4 linked regions of the Homo sapiens genome follow. The protein of the gene in region 1 interacts with the protein of each later gene in a pairwise test. Each region holds a gene or a part of one and is shown in the gene's direction. Other genes may lie near its edges. The genes, in order: TTC23, CTNNA3, KRT16 and FSD2.

What was found.
Region 2: the proteins of TTC23 (region 1) and CTNNA3 interact in binary tests that used the Homo sapiens proteins (3 or more experiments, as listed by UniProt).
Region 3: the proteins of TTC23 (region 1) and KRT16 interact in binary tests that used the Homo sapiens proteins (3 or more experiments, as listed by UniProt).
Region 4: the proteins of TTC23 (region 1) and FSD2 interact in binary tests that used the Homo sapiens proteins (3 or more experiments, as listed by UniProt).

Annotation. Positions count from the first base shown.
Region 1 is NC_000015.10:99,246,547-99,253,905, reverse strand, and holds the start of TTC23 (tetratricopeptide repeat protein 23), read left to right. Parts: upstream 1-4,324; 5' UTR 4,325-4,735; intron 4,736-5,595; exon of another isoform or gene 5,596-5,693; coding exon of another isoform or gene 5,694-5,718; intron 5,719-7,359. UniProt on the Homo sapiens protein: Participates positively in the ciliary Hedgehog (Hh) signaling.
Region 2 is NC_000010.11:65,912,023-65,915,230, reverse strand, and holds the end of CTNNA3 (catenin alpha-3), read left to right. Parts: 3' UTR 1-2,708; downstream 2,709-3,208. UniProt on the Homo sapiens protein: May be involved in formation of stretch-resistant cell-cell adhesion complexes.
Region 3 is NC_000017.11:41,609,744-41,617,254, reverse strand, and holds KRT16 (keratin, type I cytoskeletal 16), read left to right. Parts: upstream 1-4,487; 5' UTR 4,488-4,566; coding exon 4,567-5,097; intron 5,098-5,533; coding exon 5,534-5,616; intron 5,617-5,753; coding exon 5,754-5,910; intron 5,911-6,024; coding exon 6,025-6,186; intron 6,187-6,275; coding exon 6,276-6,401; intron 6,402-6,703; coding exon 6,704-6,924; intron 6,925-7,018; coding exon 7,019-7,065; intron 7,066-7,225; coding exon 7,226-7,320; 3' UTR 7,321-7,477; downstream 7,478-7,511. UniProt on the Homo sapiens protein: Epidermis-specific type I keratin that plays a key role in skin. Acts as a regulator of innate immunity in response to skin barrier breach: required for some inflammatory checkpoint for the skin barrier maintenance.
Region 4 is NC_000015.10:82,761,037-82,768,071, reverse strand, and holds part of FSD2 (fibronectin type III and SPRY domain-containing protein 2), read left to right. Parts: intron 1-2,040; coding exon 2,041-2,174; intron 2,175-2,773; coding exon 2,774-2,906; intron 2,907-5,793; coding exon 5,794-5,970; intron 5,971-7,035.

The DNA of each region.
Region 1 (7,359 bases):
TCCTTTCATATTCTGACCACCTCCAATCTATCACAAGGCTAGTGGCCTCTATCTCCCAAATACATCTCAAATCCATCCAAATCTCTCCATCTGCCAAAACCACAAGCCACAGTCATCTCCTGCCTGGCCAACAGTATTACCAGTCTCCCTGTGTCCACTCTAGTCACTTCCAACACATTAATCCCAGCAATGGGCCTTTAAAAATGTACATCCAATTACATCTCACTCTTTTCGGTACACATCTTACTAAATAAACCCTTCAGAAACTTCTTACTTAGAAAATCAACTCATACTAGGCCTTGAGGGTGCCTCACCATCTGCCCCCACCCACTTCTCCAGCAACTCTGCTTGGCTTCTCACCAAGCTTCTGGGCTTTTCCAATCCTCAAAGCTACTAAACCCCTAACAGCACTTGCTGGTCTCCTCTTAGCCTAGAAAGCAATGTCCCATCATTCTCCAGATTTCAACATAAAAATTACTTCCTGAGACCGGGCGCAGTGGCTCACGCCTGTAATCCTAGCACTTTGGGAGGCCGAGGAGGGTGGATCACCTGAGGTGAGGAGTTCGAGACCAGCCTGGCCAACTTGGCGAAACCCCATCTCTACTAAAAATACAAAAATTAGCTGGGTTTGGTGGCGGGCGCCTGTAATCCCAGCTACTCGGGAGACTGAGGCAGGAGAATCTCTTGAAACCGGGAGGCGGAGCTTGCAGTAAACCGAGATCGCACCACTGCACTCCAACCTGAGCGACAGAGCGAGACTCAGTCTTAAAAAAAAAAAAATCACTTCCCTATCCCAAAGTAATTCCCCTGGTGTTCTTTCAGAGGAACTTGGCTGTTTGTTTTTTCTTCGTAGGACTCCTCACAATTTGTCACTTAAATATTTATCGTTGCATCTGTCTATTGTCAATAAAGCCAAAAAGCCTGTAAATAAACCCTTCCGAAACTTATTTAGAAATCCTGAGGGCAGGGACTGCGTTGTTTTCTTCACGCTTGCATACCTGCATCTAGCACAGTAACTAAAAGTAACCCTTCCTAAAACCTAGGTGATGGGTTGACAGGTGCAGCAAATCACCATGGCACACGTTTACCTATGTAACAAACCGGCATATTCTGCACATGTATCCAGGGACTTAAAATTTTAAAGTAGGCCTTCTAATATCTGATGACATGTGGAAGAACATTGCAAGGTTGATTTTTCATCCAACTATGTCAAGACCACGGATAGAGCCTATAAGCTTGCTACATGCCACAAGGATGTCTAATCTTTACAACCATGCACTGCAATAGACATTATGTAGCCCGTTTTGTAGAGGAGGAAACTGAGTTTCTCAGAGGGTAACATGCCATAGTTCCATCGCAGGTGGACTGACTACAAAGCGTGTGCACCGCCGCCCTATAATGCAAAACCACACTCACTGAAGGAAGATTCAATAAGACAGTCCCTGTAACCTGACGGCTTTCCTTCTGAATGTTCTGGCTGGGATTGGCTGCCTCAAAAACACCATTACACTCTGTTAAAATTGCTACAAAGGCTGTTTGGGAGATAAAATCTAAACAAATGAAATCCTAAAACTGCCAATAATAGCAATAAAGCATCAACAATGCTCACAGTTTTGCAGTATGCATTCACGGGCCATACACAGCCTTTAACAAGGTAATTTTCTTACCCCATTTCACTTGACTACATCTTACCTAGTTAAGCAAACTACCTCTTGTATAGTTATACTACCTCTTATGTAGTTAAGGCAAATAGTATTACTTAATATCAGCTGTATACAGCTGCACTTACACACGAGCTTTCTGACAGGTGAACACCAATCTATCTTATTATTAAAAACAAAACAAAAAAATCAAAAACCTCTCAACAAAATTCCACACATATTAAGGAGTATTTTGAAAGGAAGGAGTCCCTTATACTGACCTCCCCGTACTCAATTTAGTAGAATACGCATTCCAATTTCCTAACGCTGGAGATTAGAGAACTATAAGCTACATATTAAAAGCATTTGTAAAAGGCTATTTTCTCAGCTGTGGTAACAAACACTGGCAGAGTCTTAGGCAAAACACACGCCGTTTCGCCCGAGTTAGCCAGCCACTGAGATCGTTACAGTTGGGAAGCAGCGAGCCCAGCAGCAGGGATTTCACGGACCCGGTATCAGGGTTCTCGGGTCCCAGGGGCCGCGGGCCGCAGAGTGGGAGGAGGACCCGGCAGCTGTGGCCACCCGAGGCCCGGACGGCTCCGCTGTCCCACTCGCCGCGACCCGGACGCTTTGGCAGGACCACGTCTGGGGCGTCCCCGCCGGGGGGCCGGGTCAGAGAGCCTCGCCACTTGAATCACCCGACGAGGCGGACAGCTCTACTCACCTCAGCGCCAGCAGAGCCAGCGCTCCGGAGCGCAAGCGGCGCTGGAAGCCAAGCGGGGGACGGCGGGCGGGGCGGGGCAGGGAGCCAGGCGAGGGCGGGGCGGAGCGCCGGGCGTCGGGGGCGGGGCTCCGGGGGTGGAGCGGAACCCGCGCCAGAGGGAGCTGGGGAAGAGGGAGCGGGAGAGGAGCACGGAACCTCGCGATAATCCCCTGTGTTCTCGCGCTTTCACGATAGGCGCGGGAAAATGCTCGTTTGCCAAGCGATCTGTGTATTGGCCGAGAGCGCTACTTCCTCTATGCTGGCCCCGCCCGCGGCTCTACTCTTGCTTCCGGCTCCGGCGTGGGGTTTGATGTCGACGGAGTGGCTTTTGCTTAGCGTCTTGAAGGGGTAATTTAGTCGGCTCCAACTTCGGGAACCGCCAGTTACTGACCTGTTCCTTCATTCATACATTCATTCAGTCACTCGGCTTCTCATTCAGAGCACACGTTGAGGGATTACAACAATGATCCCACGTTGAGCGTTCGTTCTAAGAGCTGTTTATAGATTATCTCGTTGAACCCTTGACAGCAATCCCATGACACAGGGACTAACAGCGCCAGTCTGACCGTTGAAAAACAGGCCAGTGGGTTTATGTAACGAAGCCAACGTTATTTAGCAAGTAGTGAGTCTAAGCACCGGATTTAAGGGGTCACTACGAACTGGTAGATAACAAAGATGAGGAGGACGTAACCTAGTCTCTGCCCTTCAAACACCCAAGGTTTATTTTGAGTAAAGATTGCTAAAAAGGTCAGGAACAATTTAGAGAGTTAAATACAATGACACTTCCTAGCCTGACTGAGTAGGCCGTCAATATGTATTTCTTCAAGACGAAAATTATTATGTCAGCGAAATAGCATGAAAGAGGGCTTTATGCTGTTAAAAATACTTGGAAGCATAGTTCGGAAACATTTTTAAAAGACACTTTTTAAAGTGTCTCATTAATATGACAAATTTCCTTCTGAAATGAAGATTTTAAAGTATAATCCTCTACTACAACCGCTGATATTTTTTGTTCTGTGGAAAGCCTGTCTATGAGTTTGCGAGGCTCCTTGTCAAGGAACTTTAACTTTATAATGAAGTAGTTTTTACAGTTGCTGACTTAATTATTCATAGAGACGAATAACCTAGAAAGCAGAGTTATATTAAATAAAAAACATTGGTTTTAAAACAAGGTATGAGTTATAATAAAAATTATCAGTTATCTATTAAATCTGGTCTTCAAGAGCTATTCAGGTATACAGCATGGTTGGTATATGTCATGTATTTCTAAGATAGTTTCGGAATACCTAAGAATTCGTGGCACTCAGAAATTTTTTGCTGGTCTTAAAATGAGGAAATCCACATTTTGTGTAAAAACAAAGATACGGTGTTTAATGGTCAGCCCAAATAATAAGACTTGCTGCTAATATATGAAGAGTTACACCCCCCAAAAAAGAAAAAAGATTAACAGTAGAACAGTTTTTTGAAAACAATGTTAGCCTCTTAGTTTTCATTTCTTTTTTTTAATGGGGAATACTGTTTTTCAGTGATTAATATCTGATATTTGATCATGAAAAATGAATCATGTTAAAATAACCTTCACCTCCTCCCCACATTGACACAAAAGTTACCAAGTGATTATATTTGATAATACTTTATGACCCCACTCTTGAAGTTCTCACAATTTGTAGAGAATCAATTCGCACGTTTTGTCTCTCTTAAAGGGGAAAAAAATCCTCTAAGCTGGTGATTTCACGTTCTTTGACAAACTTCAATATCAACAGGCAACGATACCACTTTAAGAAAATTCCAAGGAAAAGACCTCATTTTAAAATTCCCACCTCTGGCTCCCAAAGATTGGTTTGCAAACTTCGACAAAATACTCTTCTCCACTCGCTATTGGTGAGTGCTCTATCATTCATTCTTTTGCCTGGAGTTTTGTGAGGTACCCGCTTGCTTTATGGGAAAAGGCTGCTCCGGAACTGCCCTACTTTAGACTTTTTCATGGTTATCAATCTGTACAAAGAATCACCAAACTGATAAAGCAGGAACCAGAGGGCAAATCACGCTGCCAAGACAACTGTGTAATTCGCTCGAAAAAGAAACGGTGAGCCTCTCCAGCAGACTGGGTAAACTGGCAAGGGATTTTACGACATAGTTGGAGATTGGAGAGTTACAGAAACTTTTCCGGTTTTTTACAAGTTTTAAAGGAGTGATTGAGTGTCAAAGGAAAAGCAGAGAAAATACAGGCACAATTTAAAGACAGCAGGAAGAAGAGTGTTCAGAGAGCATTTTTCTCTTTAGGGTGAAGTTTGAAAGCATCATGCCCAGATTATCAGTGGATTTTTGAAAGGTAAAGGAGGCAAGATAATAAGATTAACTATAGATCATTTTCTACTTTAAGAAACTGTGCTTCGTTATTGTTGCTTAAGTGTGGATTTAGAAGGACATTTAGTAATATTGTAATTTTTATATGGATATTTTTGTTTATATATTGTCATACCTGGCATAATAGATAATATATCTATTAAAAGATATAGGAGAAAATAGAGTTGCTTGAACCCAAATTTTGTGTATATTTGTGGATTAGGGATTCCAGGGACAGATCTGCTAATGGCTGAACAAAACATACTACAGATACCTGAAGCAGAATCAGCATGTAAGGGTAAATTCTCAAAAAAATCCAGCAATCATATTTCAAAAATGACATTTTTAATTAAAACAAATACAAAAGAATTTATCAAGGAAACGTTGATGAACATGACTATTTCTTAAGTTGCCTGTGTTAATCCATATAGGGGAATATAAAGTAATAAAATCCAGCCCCTCAAGAGCAGGGACAAATGAGGCTCAGAACATTTAAACTAAAACTTCTGAACAGTTCTTAATGCCCGGATGACTGTTGTAGAGCACAGGTGCTTCAGGAGCTCAGCTCAATGTGAGATGAATTATTCAGAGAAGGCTTCACAGTATGGGTAAGACTCAATTTGGGCCTGAGCAATGGGCAGAATTTCAGAGAGAAAAATAAGGGAAGTGGCATCCCTACTAGTGAGTGAGTTGTTAGCAAATACATGCAGCCTGAGGAAGAGTTGGTTCTGACTGCGGCAGAAGGTTCATTTGGAAACTTTGGTTACAAATTTTAAAAAGCAGCATGAGAAATATAAAGAGCCGGAATTCCCAAAATCAGGGGTTTGGGTCCTGTGTTTGGAACAGGAGGCACCCCTTATGAAAGTAATATTTGAAGACAATAAAACTGACAGTGGAATTTAAGATGGCTAGACCAGAGCAGAGACCAGAAGCTAAGGGGCCCCATGCTGTGTAAATACTGGCACACAGGTTAGTAACCATGCTTCTTACCCGAATACATTTACCTTATCATTGTTGAATAATATAAATTTTGATGCACTTCTTTGTAGTCTTCGAAAGCATTGAGTTTACTTCTTTAAGATTTTTGGGGACCGCTGCCACACTGTCTTGGGGAGTCATGGTTGCCCCGTCTTTATAAAAGTCTTGTCATAATATGTATAAAAACCAGAATTACACATAAAACTGCGTTGTGGTTTCATAGCTATTTTTAACAGCTTTAATGAAGTATAATTTATATATTATAAAGTTCATTTGTCTTAAGGATATAACTCAATGATTGTTTTAGAAAATCACAACCATCACCACATTCCAATTTTAGAAAATTTTCATCATCCTAGAAAATTTAGAAAATTTTCATCATCCTAGAAAATTTAGAAAATTTTCATCATCCTAGAAAATTTAGAAAATTTTCATCATCCTAAAAAAATACTTTGTGCCCATTTGCAGGCAAGTCCTGGTTTCCTATCCCCAGCCCCAATCACTAAAAAACTTTCTGTCTATAAATTTACCTTTTCTGGGCATGTAAGTGGAATTACACATTATGCGATCCTTTGCATCTAGTTTCTTTTACTTAGCATAATGTTTTTGAGGTTCATCCATGTTGTAGTATGTCTCATTACTTCATTCCTTTTTATTGCTAAGTAATAATCCACATTTTATTTAACAGTACCAATTAACAGACATTTGGATTTCTTCTAGTATTTAAATATAGTGTTTAATTGTACTAATTGTAATTGTATTACAGTAAATACAGTACAGTATTTAGCATTATGAATAATGCTGCTATGAAGATGGGTACAAGTTTTTGTATGAACGTGTGTTTTCAGTTTTCTTGGGTGTATATCTACGAGTGGAATTACTGTCATATGGTAACTCTGGGTGTAACTTTTCAAGGTGTTGCACAACTGCTTTCCAAGGTGAATTTCCCATTTTACATTTCCACCAGAGTGTATGAGGGTTCCAATTTGTCCACATCCTCACCAACACTCCTTATGATCTGTCTTATTCATTGTAGTCATTCAGCTGGATTTTAAGTGGTATCTTATTACAGCTTTCATTTGCATTTTCCTGATGACTGACGATATGAAGCATCTTTTCATGTGCTTGTTGACTATCCATATATCTTCTTTTGTAAAATGTCTTTCAAATATTTTGCCTATTTTTTTAATTGAGTTGTCATCTTGTTACTGATTGTTTTTTGGTTTTTTTGGTTTTTGTTTGTTTGTTTGTTTGTTTGAGACTGGGTCTCGCTTTGTCGCTCAGGCTGGAGTGCAGAGTGCCACGATCTCGGCCCACTGCAATGTCCACCTTCCGGGTTCAAGCAATTCTTCTGCCTCAGCCTCCCGAGTAGCTAGGATTACAGGTGCCCACGACCACGCCCAGCTAATTTTTTGTATTTTTAGTAGAGACGGGGCTTCACCATGTTGGCCAGGCAGGTCTCGAACTCCTGAACTCGTGATCCACCTGCCTTGGCCTCCCAAAGTGCTGGGATTACAGGCATGAGCCATCGCGCCAGCCCATGTTAATAAATTTTTTTTTTTTTGACACGGAGTGTCACTCTGTCACCCGGGCTGGAGTACAGTGGCTCGATCTCAGCTCACTGCAACCTCT
Region 2 (3,208 bases), on another chromosome or scaffold:
CAGAAATTCAGCCATTCTCCTGACTGATGGTAGGTGAAATTCTTCCCAATATTAGAGCCAATCTGGGTTACCATACGTTCATATATTTAACAGCTATTTGTTAAACAACTGTGATGTTCCAGGCACTGTTCTAGGTTCTTAGGATACACCATATAACAAAACAAATAGTGATCCTTGCCCTCATGTGCCAGCTCTGTGTTAAATGCTAACTATTATCTTATTCAATCCTCCAAATAACCCTATAGGATATATATCATTCCACAGACAAGGAAGCTGAGGGTTAAATGGGATAAGAATCTTGCTCAAAGTCTCACTGGCTTTAAAATATTAATATATATTTTACATCATTCAAGACAGATATATAATTAGCTGAATATTCTCACCTCTATTAACTGAATGTAGAGTGTCAGGTACATGGGAAGTAAGTTATTTACGTGATCTGAAATAAGAGGACAACCTTTGCCAAATTACTTTTATTACCATGGAGAAGAAAGCTTCAATGAAATGCCTGTTTCAGCCCATCTTCAGTATTGGTTGGTTAATACCATTTGTTAACACCAATCCTTTCCTCTTTTACTGCTAACATGTGACTGTGTTTAAAATTATAGATTGCAGCAGAGTGTTGGCCAAGGATTATTGTAGTAGGATAAAGTTTCCCTGTATTTGAAATTTACCCAAACTGTAGCAAATACATCTTTCCTTCTTTATGGAGGTCACACGTGTGCATAGTATGTGCCTGAATACAGGTAAACTTTGTGTTTTAAAATTACATGGCCTTTTTTAGAGTCGACTGAAGGCTAGACTCTTCTTGCCCATGTTGCTGGATAGGCTTTCAAATCTCAGGCCTTGGAGAGTTAAATGACTTTCTGATATTTCTTACGGTGGAGCCACATAAGAAATACACACATTCCTAGTTTGAGCAATGGATGTGTATATTGGGGATCTTCACTTTTATGTATCTGGTAGTCATGATGGTGCCTATTCCCAACTGTAGGAAAGGAAAGCCCTCAAGGAGAAAATTCTCTTTCAAAAAGGCTCAGATTTCTAACAATTATGTCTAAATGTTTCTTCAATTTAGAACATGTACAAAAGCTACTTAATATTAGCAGAGTAGTTCTTGTGTTTTCATTTCAAATGAAATATTCCCAGTTCCAAAGTTTATTTCCTTGGCATTTTCAAGAAGGATGGTTATTTTTAGTTCTGGTTATTTGGTGTTGGAGGTCTGTGACACTTCCTTATACATTTAAAGCCCCCTTTGAATAGTTGTATCAATAGTTCAAAAGCCTGTAGATATCTTGCTTTTCTATTCTGACAGCCCAGCTTCTGCAGACTCAGGCCAACCTTAGGTATGTCACATCAGTTCCCCATCTGTGTAAATTACCTGAACCTCTCTGTGGTATTCACTGAGAGTTGAGCTTCTACTAAGGGATTTCCTTGACCTGGGCTTTTAACACCAGATTTGTAGTGGAGTGTTTATTAGTAAAGCAAAGGAGTAAGTCAGAGATGCTAGCCCCTGCTCTCAGTTAAACAGAACTATCCTCCTTCCTGAATATTTAAACATAAAATTAATTTTAAACTACTATAAAAATCATGTTCCATTGCTTGCCAAATCTTATACCATTATAATGCTGTATTTTTACATGTTAGTATACATTGTGTCCATAGGGATATAAATATGAGAATTTCAGCAACTGTCTTGCAGGGTTAAGATGTGCTATTTGTTGATTTTGCAAATTTTTCTCATGTGGTACAGTCCCTCCAAAGAAAATTTCCTTAGACCTAAATGGTAGCATAATAATTTCTCCTCCATATCCGTGACTAACAAGTTCCTGAAAACAGAAGTAGACATATTTTATGCCCAATTTAGTACCTAATAATTGAGGCTTAAAACAAAATTTTCTTGGGCAAGTTGGGTGATTAAATATGAATTAAAACTTCTAGAGAAAGATTTCCAGATGCCCCTGTTTTCCATTTTGATTATGGTTTTAGTTTCATAGCAACTTGGGGGAAAAAAATCATTTACTTTATGTCGTATTACAACAACAACTTTGACAGCTTAAATGTAGTGACCTCTCTGAAGGTAATATGCACATTATAATTTAGGATGAAAGCAGATTTAAACTAAGACTTTCTGAGATGAAATAAAAGTAACCAATTCATAATAGTCATGTTTATTGCAGCAATATCTTGGGAACTTAAGTTTAGTGGCGTTTGAGGTGTTTCTGACTATCTTGCTTGTTCATTTCACCCTGCTCTGCAGAGACAGAATATGATTGAATGAACTGCCCATTATATTAATGACCAGTTCAAAGCAGTTTTGTGCTTTGGCTATAGATAAAATTTGGCAAAAATACTGTAGGCCTTTCTGGTCCATATTTATCCTTAAAGTATTTTTGCCAATCAATAAAAATGAAATATTTATCCAGAAATAGAAAAAGCTCTTTCCTATGACATTGACATAGAAGCCCAAATACTCCTTGTTTGAGACCCTGCATGTCTTTTGTGTTTAACTGAATCAATGATTTTTTTTAGTTGTGCTCTTAATTGCATTATTTCACATATGTAACACTGGGTTTGTTTTGGTTATATAGTATTATTTTACTTTATTCTAATTTCAACTCATGTCACTCTGTAGCTCATTAAGAATTTGTTCAACTGAAAATTAAAATGTGTGTTAAAGCAATAAAAATGAAAAGATTGGCTATGCATTTTATGTTGATATTTGGTGGCGGATTTCTTGGGTGGGATGAAAAAAATGGAGATTAATAAATTGCTGAGTAGTCCAACCATGTGTTTCTAAGTGTCACCTTCACTCTCATCCTCTTTCAGTTTTATATTTATAATTCAGGAAGGCACTTTTCCAAACTACTGCATGCACACAAGTAATCTGAAGCATATCTGATAGAATTAAATTCATAGTCTAAATGAGCATTTTTGGTCTAATACAGGCACTAGTCTTGGGCATTAGACATGCCTTTAATAGTTCTGTGTAGCTCAAGAGTTGTTCTTTAGCTTAGGACTTTATGAAAATGATCAATAACTTTTCTGAGAATGTCCGAACACATACTCCCTAGTGGTCATGGAATACCATTGGTTCTACCAATGCTCTTGTATCTAAAAATTGGTGGGTTTTTAACATCCATCTTGGCCTCCTCATTTTTAGGCTGATAATAATCCTTTCTCAGTATGAATCCCATGGGGTTAGCCT
Region 3 (7,511 bases), on another chromosome or scaffold:
TTCCACCCTGTCATCAAGGCAGAAGCTGCAGATCTGTGGTTGCCCTTGGAGCTGCCACACCTGGTCTTGAGTGATGGACACACACATATGATTCTCAGGCCAGGTCCATGCCAGTGGTAGCCTACCTCTGGATCCCCCTTGCAGGGGCTGACCTGGTAGCATGTCCAGGGGGAGATGAGTGTCCCCCACTACATCCATCTCCCTGCAGGACATCCTGCCAGGGGAAGGAGGAGACACCGGTCCTGACCCCAAGAGATAGTGCCTGCCCCGAGGGGACCTGAGGGACTGAAAACAGTCCCTCAGCCTTTATGCAGTGTGGGTCTCTTGTGGCAACCCAGGTTTTGGGGAGATGAGGGGAACAGAGGGAACAGAGCCAGGCAGGTCTCCCCCCATGCACAGAGCTGAGGGGATAACTGAGCTGGACAGAGGCCCGTCCTCACCCTGAGCTGTAGTGACCATTTGAAGAAACATCCCTGAGAGAGGCCCACTCTTTCTCCCACAACCCCCTGGGGTCCGCAGCCTTCCCTGGAGGCACCAGCTTCCTGCTCACATTCCTGGGGTGGGGGCAATGGGAGCCCCTCTTGTGGGTTTCCTGAGACTCACACAGGAGTCCGGGCTCCTTGTTTGTGCAGAACAGGCACCCCAAGTGGGCCCAGGCTGCTGAGGACATGTGCCTGGGCTGGACTGGAGACCCAGCTATGGGACTCATGGAGGGACTCACAGTTCGTCCACACCCACCCTGCCCAATGCACAGAATGTTTCACCCCATCATCAAGGCAGAAGCTGCAGATCTGTGGTTGGATTGTGAAGGGCTATGACAGCCCCACCTTCAGAAGGGGGGCATCAAACATGCAGGAGGGGATAGGAGCCCCAGAGGTGGGCCTGGCACTCACAGATTTCCCCAGATCCCGGGAGCCGTCACAGGGGCAGAGCCTGGGCCTGGACATTTGTTCTCCCCCAGGGACCCTGCTCTCTCTGTTTCTCTGCAGGGCCCCAGTACCCCATCGTGGCCTGACATTAGTGTATTGGGATTGTCTTTACCACCTTCTCCCCCAGAAGACTGTGTCTCCAGGGCTTCTCTGTCTTGTTCTTTGAGTCTGAGTGCCCAGCACAGTGCCAGGCACATAGTAGGCACTTTATAAACACCTGCTCATAAACATAACGCTAGCCACCAGCCTTTTCCAGGTGCTTTATTTATTTGGCCTCGAATCCCCTAATATGCCTGTGAGGCAAGGCTGTTATTCCCATTTCCCAGAGAAGGAAACTGAGGCTCAGAGAGGCTGAATGTCCTGCCCAAGATTTCGCCCCTGCTTGCCCCGATTCTAGGCTGCTCTGTCCTGGCTCAGTGGGGCTCTACTTTTCCTTCCTCCTGCCCTGAAGCCTGTGGCTCTGGCTTGTCCACCCGAGGCTGGGGGCCCTGCAGCAGCCCCCTCTCTCCCCTCAGCTTCTCTGCCCCCCTCCTTAGCCCCCAAGCTGCCTCCTGCCTTCCCAGTCTGAGTTGGCTGGGGAGCTTGTAAAACAGCCCCACCAGCAGGCTTGTCCTGAGCGGTGCTGATGCGGGAGTTGGAGCAGGGCTGCAAATCTTCATGGGGACTCTGACGATCTGTCTGGTTGGAGAATCACTGCAAGTCAAGGCGTGGCATTGGCCAATGGTGTTTCCCGGCTGCCTCAGGTATGCCATGATCTCATGCCTCATGCTTGACATGGGCAGTACGAAGGAGGGAGGAAGGAGGCAGGGTGTGGGGAGGAATCCTCTGCCTGGAGGATGCCCACTGGGCTTCTCTGTGCTCACCAGGCTTAGTGGTCCTGGCTCTTGGCCACCTTGGGGCAGGTGTGCATCACTGGTGCACAGGAAACGCCTCCTCCTCCTCCTCTGTCAACTCAGATCCTCTGAGGCCCTGCTGGTGCCTCTCTCTGCTAGGACCCTTTCAGGGATCAAGGCCAGGAGGGCAGCCCCCTCCTCTACTGCTGAGGCTCAGCGGGGCAATGCCTACCCCAGCTGCCTCCTGTGGTGTGGGCATGGCAGGCAAGCCCAGCACCCCAGGGTTTCTAGCCAGGTTCTGTATTTTCCAGCATTAGTTTTCCCTCCAGGGTCAAATGATAAGTTCTTCTAAGGTCAGAGACTATGTCATCATCTCCCTCTTCACCCCCAGCCCCCGAGAGCTGTACACACAGCAGGTGCGTGATCTATGGAGTTGGCTGAGCAGTTTGGCGCGTTGGTCAGCAACTTCCTGCAGCTTCTCAGCCCATGCAGATCCCCAGGTCTGCAGTGCTGGGCTTGTGTATAATCCCGCCCTGACACCTCCTGGAATGGGGAACTTGGTGGGGGGCAGTGAGCCAATGAGAAAGGGGTGTGTGTGCATGCACACACGATGGGGGCAGAGAGTGAAGAGTTCTCAGAGACTCTACTACGAGAGTCGGTGTGAATCCTGGCTTGGGAGTTAGAGCTGGCTCGAGTCTCTGCTCTCTCACTTTTGTGCTGCTTAACCTGGATAAGGCTTTCGCTCTCTCCAGTTGGGGTATTAATAGCCTTTGGTGACCTTGAAGACCATTTTCAGTTCTGAGGGTGATGGGTCTGTGGATGGACCAGAACTCCAGGCCCAACCTGACACCTGAACACTGAGGTTTTTGTCCAAGATTCCGGGGTCCCCTTTGCCCCTTTTTGGGGTAGGGGTGAGGAGTGTCAGGTTCCCTCTCCCAGGTTTGACTCTGAAGGGATGTGCATCCGTTCTGCTCTTACCTCTGGGATGAATGACCAGGGGAGATGTAGCAGTGACAAAACCCTGGTTCTGCTGAGACAAGGAATTGCCTGCCCCAGTGGAGCTCAGGCAGAAGCAGGCTGTCTCTGGGCTCCTCACCTCAACAGAGACACTGCAGAGCAAGGCCAGTGGCCAGCACCGAGGGATGCCCCACAGCACCCTGAGGAGGCCCCGTCTTGGTGCCCAGACCCCTCCATCCTCCCTCCAGTCCTCGGTGCTGGACCAGGCTCTCAGGCCAAGGCCATGCCCACCATGGGCAGACCTCCTGCCAGTGATCGTGGGGAGGTGGGTGAGAGTTGGGTATACTGGCCCCGCCTGCAGGCATGGTGGGAGCCTGGAGAGGGCCAGAGTTCTGGGTTCTAGTTGCAGCTCTGCAGCTTAAAGCAGAGTGACTTTGAGTGAATCTCTACGCTCACAGAACTGTATGGCACACACTGGGCTCTCCATGCATGCCTGAGTGGGCCCATAACCAGTGCTCTCCCCCAGCTCAGCTGGATGAATGGAGCTGCCAGGCCTAGCCTGGGATCTGTGGACACAGGAGAGAGAACTGCTGGGAACGGATCCCCGGCTAGTCCTGTTTCTACAGGGTAGGGGGGGACTCTGAGGCCCAGGTGGGGTCAGGGGTCATACCTGGCTGTAGTGGCAGGATGGGGCTCCCTCCCACCAGCCTGCAGGTGGGGTGCCTGTGATTAGGAGAGGGCGGTAGAGGAGTGGCAGAGCTAGGTGTGGGGCTGTGGTGTTCTTCAGCTGGGAGTGTGGGGGGCGCAGGGCCCTGCTTAGGGGTGCGGGATGGTGCCAGTGTGTAGAGGTGAGTGTGAGGAGCAGGTGGCTGGAGGGGCAGGATGGGGAGGCTGAGGGGCAGGGCTGGCCCTCGGGGAAGGGCCGGTGGGGTCCTTCGCGCATGTTTCTTTGTGGCTAGTGGTGTGTCATCCCCTTTTACAGATGAGAAAACTGAGGACCAAGGGGCTATAGGACCAGCCTGTGCTGTACAGTTGGTAAGGGCAGAGCAGGGACTCAGTGCCGCCTGTCTAGCTCCATGGCCAGTGCTGTTTGTATGGTGCACACACTTCTGGAGATCCCGGGGGCTCAAGGCAGCCTCTGGAACTGGAATTAGATCCAAGAGGGGAAAGAGAGTTATAGGATTTTTAGAACAGAAGGGACTCTGCAGTCACCCAGTCCAGCCTGGTCACTGAGGGGAAACAGGCCCAGAGGTGGGAGGTGGGGAGCCTCAGGCCACACAGCAAGCAGAGTGAAGACAGGAACTCTGCCCCTGCCCAGAGTGGGACATGTGGGATCCCCACAACTGCTCCCCAAGACAGCCCAGGATGGCATCACTGAGCTCTCTTTCAGCCAAGGCTGTCACTGTGGGGCAGGGAGTTCTTCTGAAGGGCTGACTCACTGCCTGGGGACGCAGTTGCCACAAAGCCACCTGTGCCAAGGCCCGACTGGCCCCGAGGGCTCCAGGAAAGGGAGCCTGATTCCCCACCGCCTAGCCTGAGTCACCACCGAACTCGCATTTCTGTGTTTTTCTCTCGGCCCCACACCCCCAAAGCTGGGTGGGAACTCTGAGCCGGCACACAGCAGAGTTGATCCTGGGCTGAATAATCCAGAGTGAGGAGTTGGACGGGACCGGGAGTGATGAAATCCAGAGGGGAACCTGGAGTCAGCAGTTAGGAGGGCCCCGCCTTCCCCAGCTGCATATAAAGGTCTCTGGGGTTGGAGGCAGCCACAGCACGCTCTCAGCCTTCCTGAGCACCTTTCCTTCTTTCAGCCAACTGCTCACTCGCTCACCTCCCTCCTTGGCACCATGACCACCTGCAGCCGCCAGTTCACCTCCTCCAGCTCCATGAAGGGCTCCTGCGGCATCGGAGGCGGCATCGGGGGCGGCTCCAGCCGCATCTCCTCCGTCCTGGCCGGAGGGTCCTGCCGTGCCCCCAGCACCTACGGGGGCGGCCTGTCTGTCTCCTCTCGCTTCTCCTCTGGGGGAGCCTGCGGGCTGGGGGGCGGCTATGGCGGTGGCTTCAGCAGCAGCAGCAGCTTTGGTAGTGGCTTCGGGGGAGGATATGGTGGTGGCCTTGGTGCTGGCTTCGGTGGTGGCTTGGGTGCTGGCTTTGGTGGTGGTTTTGCTGGTGGTGATGGGCTTCTGGTGGGCAGTGAGAAGGTGACCATGCAGAACCTCAATGACCGCCTGGCCTCCTACCTGGACAAGGTGCGTGCTCTGGAGGAGGCCAACGCCGACCTGGAAGTGAAGATCCGTGACTGGTACCAGAGGCAGCGGCCCAGTGAGATCAAAGACTACAGTCCCTACTTCAAGACCATCGAGGACCTGAGGAACAAGGTGGGTGACTTTGGTGTATGGAGCACTGAGAGAGGCTGGGGCTACAGTGGCCCTTGGGATACCTCTTTTTAGCAATTACACTTTACAAACAGGGAGACTGGGCACCTTTGGGGAGTGGCCAGGATCACCCAGGGAAGTGGTAGCAGAGGGTCCCTTTTCAGTATCTCTGTGCCCGGACTGGGGCTGTTACCCTAAATCTCTTATTTCCTTCAAGGGTTCAGCTGCAAGTTCAGCTTCCCTGCCTTGGGCCCAGGAAGGGGGTGATCGGGATGGAGTGCATCCCTACGTAGCCTGAGCTGGTGGAGAAGGCATGCCAGCCCTGCCAGCCAGAAGACTTCCAGATTTGGGGCGGTTCCTTTTGCCCCTTTCTGCCTTTCATGCTCAAGTAGTAAGGTCCTTGGCTGACCAGGGCTCCTGTCCTCCATCCCCACTCCAGATCATTGCGGCCACCATTGAGAATGCGCAGCCCATTTTGCAGATTGACAATGCCAGGCTGGCAGCCGATGACTTCAGGACCAAGTGAGCAGCCAGCATGGTGGGCTGGGGGCAGAGGGCAAGGGACAAAGAGTGGGGCGGTCCACCCAGCAGGGCCAGCAGACCCCGAGCCTCAGAATCCTCAGGGCTGCAGCCTGAGGACCTGACCTCTGTCCTGCCAGGTATGAGCATGAACTGGCCCTGCGGCAGACTGTGGAGGCCGACGTCAATGGCCTGCGCCGGGTGTTGGATGAGCTGACCCTGGCCAGGACTGACCTGGAGATGCAGATCGAAGGCCTGAAGGAGGAGCTGGCCTACCTGAGGAAGAACCACGAGGAGGTACGGTCGCTGCTGGCTTCCGGGGTGGGAGGCTGGTTTGGTGGGGTTGCCAGATGCACCCAGGGCCAGGAGAGAAGTCTGCTGAACTGACCGCCTCCTGCCATCCCTTCCCAGGAGATGCTTGCTCTGAGAGGTCAGACCGGCGGAGATGTGAACGTGGAGATGGATGCTGCACCTGGCGTGGACCTGAGCCGCATCCTGAATGAGATGCGTGACCAGTACGAGCAGATGGCAGAGAAAAACCGCAGAGACGCTGAGACCTGGTTCCTGAGCAAGGTGGGGCTCGGGCCCGCAGTGAGCCTGCAGCACTTCCCAGCTGGGGGCTTTGGGAGAGCCTCACCTTTCACTCTGCTTTCCTGCCTCAGACCGAGGAGCTGAACAAAGAAGTGGCCTCCAACAGCGAACTGGTACAGAGCAGCCGCAGTGAGGTGACGGAGCTCCGGAGGGTGCTCCAGGGCCTGGAGATTGAGCTGCAGTCCCAGCTCAGCATGGTATGAAGGACCCAGCACAGCAGCAGCCCCCAAGTCACCAGTAATGGCCACCACCCCCTCAAAAAGCCACAGTCTAGTTCCACCTTTCTTTTCTCAGGATGGGACCAGGGGACTCATGGGACCGTTATATAGATAGAGAAACTAAGCCCTAGAATAGTGGGCTAGCTTTTCTCCATATTGTCTGGCCCATCAGTACCCCAACTGGGATCAAAATCCAGGCATCTCTCAAAAAACATGCCCAGAGACCTGGAGGAACAGGAGTGACCACCTCCATGGACTCTTTTTCTCTCTCTCACTTGCAGAAAGCATCCCTGGAGAACAGCCTGGAGGAGACCAAAGGCCGCTACTGCATGCAGCTGTCCCAGATCCAGGGACTGATTGGCAGTGTGGAGGAGCAGCTGGCCCAGCTACGCTGTGAGATGGAGCAGCAGAGCCAGGAGTACCAGATCTTGCTGGATGTGAAGACGCGGCTGGAGCAGGAGATTGCCACCTACCGCCGCCTGCTGGAGGGCGAGGATGCCCAGTGAGTCCCAGGCCCCTCAGTTCTGCCTCCCAGACCCTTTAGCCCCCCTGCTGCTCTCAGCACAACTGACTGCCCTGCTTTTTCTCTCCCACAGCCTTTCCTCCCAGCAAGCATCTGGCCAATCCTATTCTTCCCGCGAGGGTAAGGCTTCTGAGGCTCCCCGGCACTGCAGCCCCTCTGCCTGTTTCCATGGAGTGGGGGCTGGGCCCTTCTCCTCAGAGCTCCCAGCCCTCCCTTCTCCCTGCCCTGGAGTCAGCTTAGCTCTCAGACCCCTTCTCACCTCCTCTTCTCTCTCCCACAGTCTTCACCTCCTCCTCGTCCTCTTCGAGCCGTCAGACCCGGCCCATCCTCAAGGAGCAGAGCTCATCCAGCTTCAGCCAGGGCCAGAGCTCCTAGAACTGAGCTGCCTCTACCACAGCCTCCTGCCCACCAGCTGGCCTCACCTCCTGAAGGCCCGGGTCAGGACCCTGCTCTCCTGGCGCAGTTCCCAGCTATCTCCCCTGCTCCTCTGCTGGTGGTGGGCTAATAAAGCTGACTTTCTGGTTGATGCAAACCTGTGTGATCTCTGTTCTTGAACTGATGGGAGG
Region 4 (7,035 bases), about 16 Mb from region 1:
GGACTCAGTGACCACAAGGGCTCGCAGAACCTATGAGTTTACAGCAGCCTATGATGGAGGAAGCATAGGTTTACCTCTGGTTTACAGAAGTTTGTGAAAGGGGATGAACCACCCAGGCAGGCCAGCACCAGCCACCAGGACCAGGGGCTCCCCTGCTGTGGAACACAGGGGTGCACTGACCTGGAGCTGGAGAAATGAAGAGGTGTTGGTGTCAATTGTTAGGGAAGCAGATTCTTCTATGCTAAATGCCAGGCTTGAAACGTGGCCATATGCCACCCATCCATCTGTTCCAGGTGGAATCTGTGTGTCCATGGCCACACAGAGGCTGACTTTGGTAATCCACTCTGGAGATACTCAGGAGTGGGGCAGTGTGTCCAGTGGTTCTGGCCATCCTAATGGTTCAGGTTTCCTTTGCAATTTATGCTGATACTTTAGGAGCACTTGACACCTGGGACCAACTCACAATGATGAGGTCATCAGAGGGCTGGTCAGTAACCTGAGAGATGACCTGAGAGCTGGTGCATATTCTTCCAGTACAAATCCAATCATGGCGACCCATTGCTGAAGAAAAGGCAAAACTCCTTCACAGGCTCTGGCCCCTTCCTGCCTCTCCAGCTCCTCCCACACCAGCTCCCCTCCCTCTCAAGATCCCACCACATTGGTCATGTTTCAGTTCCTCCTACTTTTCATGCTCCTTCCTGCCACAGGGCCTTGGCACATGCTTCTCCTATGTAGGAGACTCCTCTGTCCCTTTTTCATCCAGTTACCTCCTCAGCATTCTTCAGAGCTCTGCTCAAAAGCCATCCTGCCCCCACCATTATACACTACAGCACACTATCAACTTGTCTTGGTTACCATCTTACATTCCTTCCAGTGATTGCCTGAAGAATGCTGCTCTTCCCATCTAGACTGTAAGCTCTATGAGGGCAGGAACTACATTTGTTTTTTCTGAGGGCCTCCCTATACAGTGCCTGGAACCTAAGGAGTTTAGTTAACATTTATTGAATGCATAAGTAAAAGTGCCCCTCTGGCCCAGAGCTGCAGCCTGAAGATAACCTGGACAACTTGGCCTCATCTGGGTGAGGGTGTTGTATTGGTAAATGGGCATCATCCTAAAGACTTCTCTTGCCCACTGGACTGACATGGGGTTGGCAACCGCAGCAATATAGACAGTGGCAATTATGAGCTTATATTTCTGTATAGTACAATTTAAATACATTGGATTATTTCCAATAGGCAGCTGTTAGGGGGTTAACAGCAGTTAACACTTTCAGCTCTAGTCAGAATTGTTTGCTCATAAACATAAATCAAGGACCTTTTTTTTTTTTTTTTTGAGACAGTCTCACTCTGTCGCCCAGGAGTGCAGTGGCGTGATGATCTCGGTTCACTGCAACCTCCAACTCCCAGGTTCAAGCAATTCTCCTGCCTCAGCCTCCTGAGTAGCTGGAATTACAGGCACCTGCCACCACACTCGGTTAATTTTTGCATTTTTAGTAGAGACGGGGTTTCACCATGTTGGCTAGGCTGATCTCGAACTCCTGACCTCAAGTGACCCACCCGCCTCAGCCTCCCAAAGTGCTGGAATTACAGGCATGAGCCATTGCACCTGGCTGAATTGACGGCCTTCTATGGGCCCAGTACTGTACTAAGAATAGCGGTACTCAGCCCCTGACCTCAGAGACATTATGATCCTAACAGACGGACAGAGACACACTGGATTCTACTGCATGCACACTCCATGATGCAGTGTTAACCATATGCCAAGCACAGTGCTGGGTGCCTGGGAAACCAGAATGAGGGACTTGGAGAGGAGACAGCCACAAACACAAGAAGTAGCAATGAAGTGAGAAAAGCAGACCAGAGACTGTGGGAGGGAATGCAGAGGGGGAGCCAGCACTCCTGGCTATGCTGCTGTTAAATGTGGGTCAGAGGACAGGAGCGCAAGAGTGAGTTAAACCTTCCAGCTTTGAAAGGGATGCCTGGTGCTTGGGCCTGGGTGTCCTAGCCCCATTCTGACTGCAGCTCTGCTTCCTTGTACAGGTCTGTTGTGGGCATCCCGACCTGCGAGTCCGTGGTGCAGCTGCAGCCGGGGCGGAGCTACATTATCTATGTGCGAGCCCTCAATATGGGGGGCCCCAGCGTGAGGAGCGAGCCAGCTACAGTCCACACCATAGGTCTGTGCCCCAGCCCACAAAGTCTCTGGGACCCAAAGTGGCCACTCTGTGGCAGACCCAGTGCTGCTATGACTTCACTGGGAAATTGATGAATATGCACAGATGTGGACACGTGGCAAGTCAGGCCAGAAGGAGTTCAGGGGTGTCCCATACTGCCCTAATTGCAAGTCAAATGGATCATTAAGAAGTCCTTCAATTCCTATTTCCCTTGGCAAATAGGTTAGAAATTCTTATCCATACACAGGCATTACAGCTAGAGGTAAAGAGCACAGCCTCTGGAATCAGAGGGGCTTGGGGTTCAAGTTTAAGTTCTATCATTTGCCAGCTGATTTCTTAACCACCTTGTGCCTCTGTTTCCTCATCTACAAAATGGAAATAGTGACACCTGTTTCTAAGGGTCGTCGTGAGGATTGAAGGGGATACTAGGCACACAAGACTGCCCGATGAGTGTCAATTGCCATCCTTGTTAACTGGACGCCTATTACTAGGCCAGGTCCAGGCTTAGGTGTATCCCACACGAAGCTAAACCGGTGACCACCGCCCACATGGAGAAAGCAAGTGATTGGCTGCGGGTCTTCTGTGTGTTCCTCCTCCCACAGGAAGCTACTTTCGCCTAAACAAGGACACTTGCCATCCCTGGCTGACCATTTCTGAAGACGGACTTACGGCTGTACGAAGTGAAAGGAGAACCCCCGCCAGGGAGCTGTCACCCAGCGACACTCACTTCACCAGGTACTTTGTCAACCGCTCACAAGGGCGTTCTGTGAACTTCCCGAAGGTGCACTGTTATTCAGGTCAAATCCGAATATGGCACGGAGGCAGCCTCGAGGGAAAAGGAATCCTACAAATGAGTGAGGAGGGAGGAGCCTAATGGGGAGGGGACCCAGAGGAGTGTGGGCAAGAGGGGTCAGGCAGGTGCAGGCAGAAGAGCCCCCTGGGACGGTGAGGTCAGGAGAGGGCGCGGTCCCCTGGGAGGGCATGGTCCCTGGGTCCTAGGCTGCCAGAGCTGGAGCAGCCAGAGGTCATGAGGGTGGGACAGGAATTACTAGTGGAGGGTGTCCAAGTTCTTGGCGTTCTGAACAAAGAATTGGACAAAATGCACAAACAAAGCAAGGAAAGAGGCCAGGCACGGTGGCTCATGCCTGTAATCACAGCACTTTGGGAAGCCGAGGCAGGCAGATCACCTGAGGTCAGGAGTTTGAGACCAGCTTGGTCAACATGCTGAAACCCCATCTCTACTAAAAATATAAAAATTAGCCGGGCCTGTTGCGGGTGCCTGTAATCCCAGCTACTCGGGAGGCTGAGGCAGAAGAATTGCTTGAACCCGCGGGGCGGAGATGGCGCCACTACACTCTAGCCTGGGCAACAGAGTGAGACTCCTTCTCAAAAAAAAAAAAAAAAAAAAGCAAGTAAAGAATGAAGCAACAAGAGCAGAGATTTATTGAAAACGAAAGCACACTCCACAGGGTGGGAGTGGGCCAAGCAAGCGGCTTAAGGGCCGGGTTACAGAATTTTCTGGGGTTTAAATATCCTCTAGAGGTTCCCACTGGTTACTTGGTGTACACCCTATGTATATGAAGTGGCTAAAGTGAAGTTACAAAGTCATTTACTGGGTGTACACCCTATGCAAATGAAGAGGATGTTTCCTGCCATGCTGAAATACAAAGCTATTTACTTGGACTTAGAAGGTTGGGGTTTTTCCGTTTAATTTAGTTCTAGGAAGTCCTTAGGTTCCCTGCCCCCAGACCCTGTTCTCCTGCTTCACAGGGGTCATGCTGTGGGCTAGTGGGAGAACAGAAACAAGGACCCAGGTCTCCCACCAGTTAGCCCAGTGCTCTCTCTCCTGCACTGTGGTACCTTACAGCAAAACTCCTGATGGAAAACTGGCCATGGAGTGAGTCTGTTCCAAAGTTCAAGGCAGATAATTGCTTTGTACATGTACATATGAAAGAAGCCGGAAAGATCATGTTTGGAGAAATATAAGGAATTTGGTATGTCTGCGGTATAGGATCCATGACGGGAAGAGGTGGAAGATGAGGCAGGAAAGTCGGAGAAAGTCCAGTATACACACAAAAAGTTAGGATTTTATCCTCTATGTGGTGAGAATTATTGGAGGATTTAAAGCAGGGGAACAAGATCAGATTACATTTCAGAAAGATTCCAGTGCATGGTAGAACGTGAGCTGGGGAGGGAGAGGGAAAGGCAAAGGCAGATGGGAAACAGAGACCAGAGAGGAGACTATGGAGGGCTTGACTACGCAGTAGCATGGGTGAGAGGAGCCAGGGGAGTCAACTGCTGTTGAGCACATAAAACCAACAAGGCTAGGTGCTCACCTGTTTAAAGGGCAACAGAGAGGAAGATGAGTCAGGGACTATCATATTGCCATATTTATAGAGTGCTTACCAAGTGCTAAATGTATTTCATCTCATGCAATCATCCTAACAGCCCTGTACTATTACCAATCCCAGTTGACGGATGAGAATACTTAAAACACAGAGAAGTAACTTGCCCAAGAGTATAATGCTATTAAGGGTTGAAGCAGGAATCAAACTAGAAGGTGAGCTTGTAGCCACTACATTATTCCCATCTTAGTTTTCCACCAGGGGGTTACCGGGTAGATAATGACTCTATTAACCAAAATGGAGATGTGAGAAGTATGTACCCCTCCCCACTACACCCCAAACTTTGGTAGATAAGAGGGGTGGGAATATGACTTTTTCCATTTGGGACATTCTGAATTTGAAACAACAAGTGGAAATGTGAGTCTGGAGCTTGAAGCAGAGATGGCCTCATTTTATAGGTGAGGTAACCGAGGTAGAAGTTAACCAACATGCAACCTCCTTCCCAAAGCTTTGCTTGAGCAGTAAGAACTTGGGGTTTTGAAAGTAGAGAGAAAATTTTAAACTGAACAAATCTTTCTAGGGATGTTGAGGTCTATATATATTTTGGTTAATGTAGGAGTCTCCTGAAGAAGGTAGAATATTCACTTTGGAGATACCAGTATAATTTGATTTTCACTGAAAACCTTCCTCTGTTGATACTTTGCTGATGTAGAACAAAACATAACTCTAATCTTTGTCAGTATAATTGTTCCCAGTGCAACAGTGGAGGTAGATTTTAATGATCTGTGAGGAATCTGCTATCTTGTTCTCCTTGGGCTGGCCTCTGAATTCCACCAGGAGTCATCCCTAACATGATGGCTACCTCAAAGGCCTTCCATGTTCATTTAGTACCATAAGCAATGGTGGTGAACTTCAAGCTTATGGTTCCCTTAACCGTGCTGTGTTGTGTATTTTCAACCCTTTTCTTTTTTTATGAACAAGTGAACCAAACCTTTTTCTATGAAAGCCCCAACCATTTTAAAGAGCAAACAAAACTTGTTCTGTTGGTTTAGTGCCTCCTCCTCTCCCATTACCAAGCAGTAACATAATCTCAAATCTTCAGTATCAGCCCACTGAGCTTTGAGAGCTAAGGGTACTTTACAAGTTAAGTGTCCAGAAGCACCTACCACCACGTTCGTAGACCACCGACTGACTGATCCCAGCAACTGGCATCACTGACCTGCACAGCCAGGCTTGGGGCACCCCAGATCACACATGCTTCCACTTTCTAAAACCAGGTGTGTTGCTGTCATGGGAAATCTAATTCCAGTCCGAGGGCACCATTACTGGGAGGTGGAGGTGGATGAGCATTTGGACTACAGAGTTGGTGTGGCCTTTGCAGATGTCCGTAAACAGGAGGATCTGGGAGCAAATTGCCTCTCCTGGTGCATGAGGCACACATTTGCATCATCAAGGTAAAGTAAAATCTGGATACTCACAATTAAAATTTGCTTTTGAAAGATTACAGCAAGACCTTTTCACTAGCAATAATTAAGACACACGTTATATTTTACAAATATTTTAAGATATTTCAGGAGTTGCTGCCAGCCACTTTCCCTAAAGTCCAAGTAAGAGGAGAAAGAGCAGCTTTTCTTCAACTAAAAATAGCTAAAATTTATGGAGAATTATGTGCCAAGTACTCTTACATGCATTATCTCATTTACTTCTCACAATTGTGTTATCTCATTTGAAAAATCAGAATGCTGGGTGCAGTGGTGTGCACCTGTAGTCCCAGCTACTCAGGAGAGTGAGGTAGGAGTATTGTTTGAGCCCTGGACTTCAAAGCCAGCTTGGGCAACATAGCAAGACCCCGTCTCTAAAAAAAAAAAAATAATAAAATAAAAAAATAAAATAAAATAAAAGAATAAAAATAAGAAGACCACACCTCACAGCAATTAGATAATCCAAACGACATGGATTTGGAACTTGGATTCAAACTCAAGCAGTCTGGTTCCAAAGATTTCATTCCTAACCACTTAAGTGATAGATTTTTCATTTCTGTTCACCTTTAGTATTAAGCCAATACAGTTTGCTTTGAAGCCCCAGTTCCATCTTTTTAAGTAAATGTGGGCAAGAGGCTTAGTAGTTATGGCTAATTCTGGTTTGCTCCTGCTGCTGGGCACTCTGTCTTTACACATGGAGTAGTTCCATATAGTGGGAAAAAAAGTCTCACGAAGCCCAGGCCAATGAATACACTTTCAGACTTAGAAGGCCATGGTTACAACCTTCCTTCACCTCAAAAACTGAAAAACAAGACCCCACACTGCTTTCCTATCACACCTTGTAAAATGGGGCCTCTGACCCTCCTTGATTTGATGAATCCTATTAATGTTCATCCAATGCTCTCTGCCCATGATCCTCTATCATGGTTATTTACACATTATGTGTCATGCCCAAGCATAAGTGGGAAAACCAACTTCCCCTCCGATAACAGATGAAGACTCTAATGAAATCTACTAAACCTCACACCCAGTTTGGGG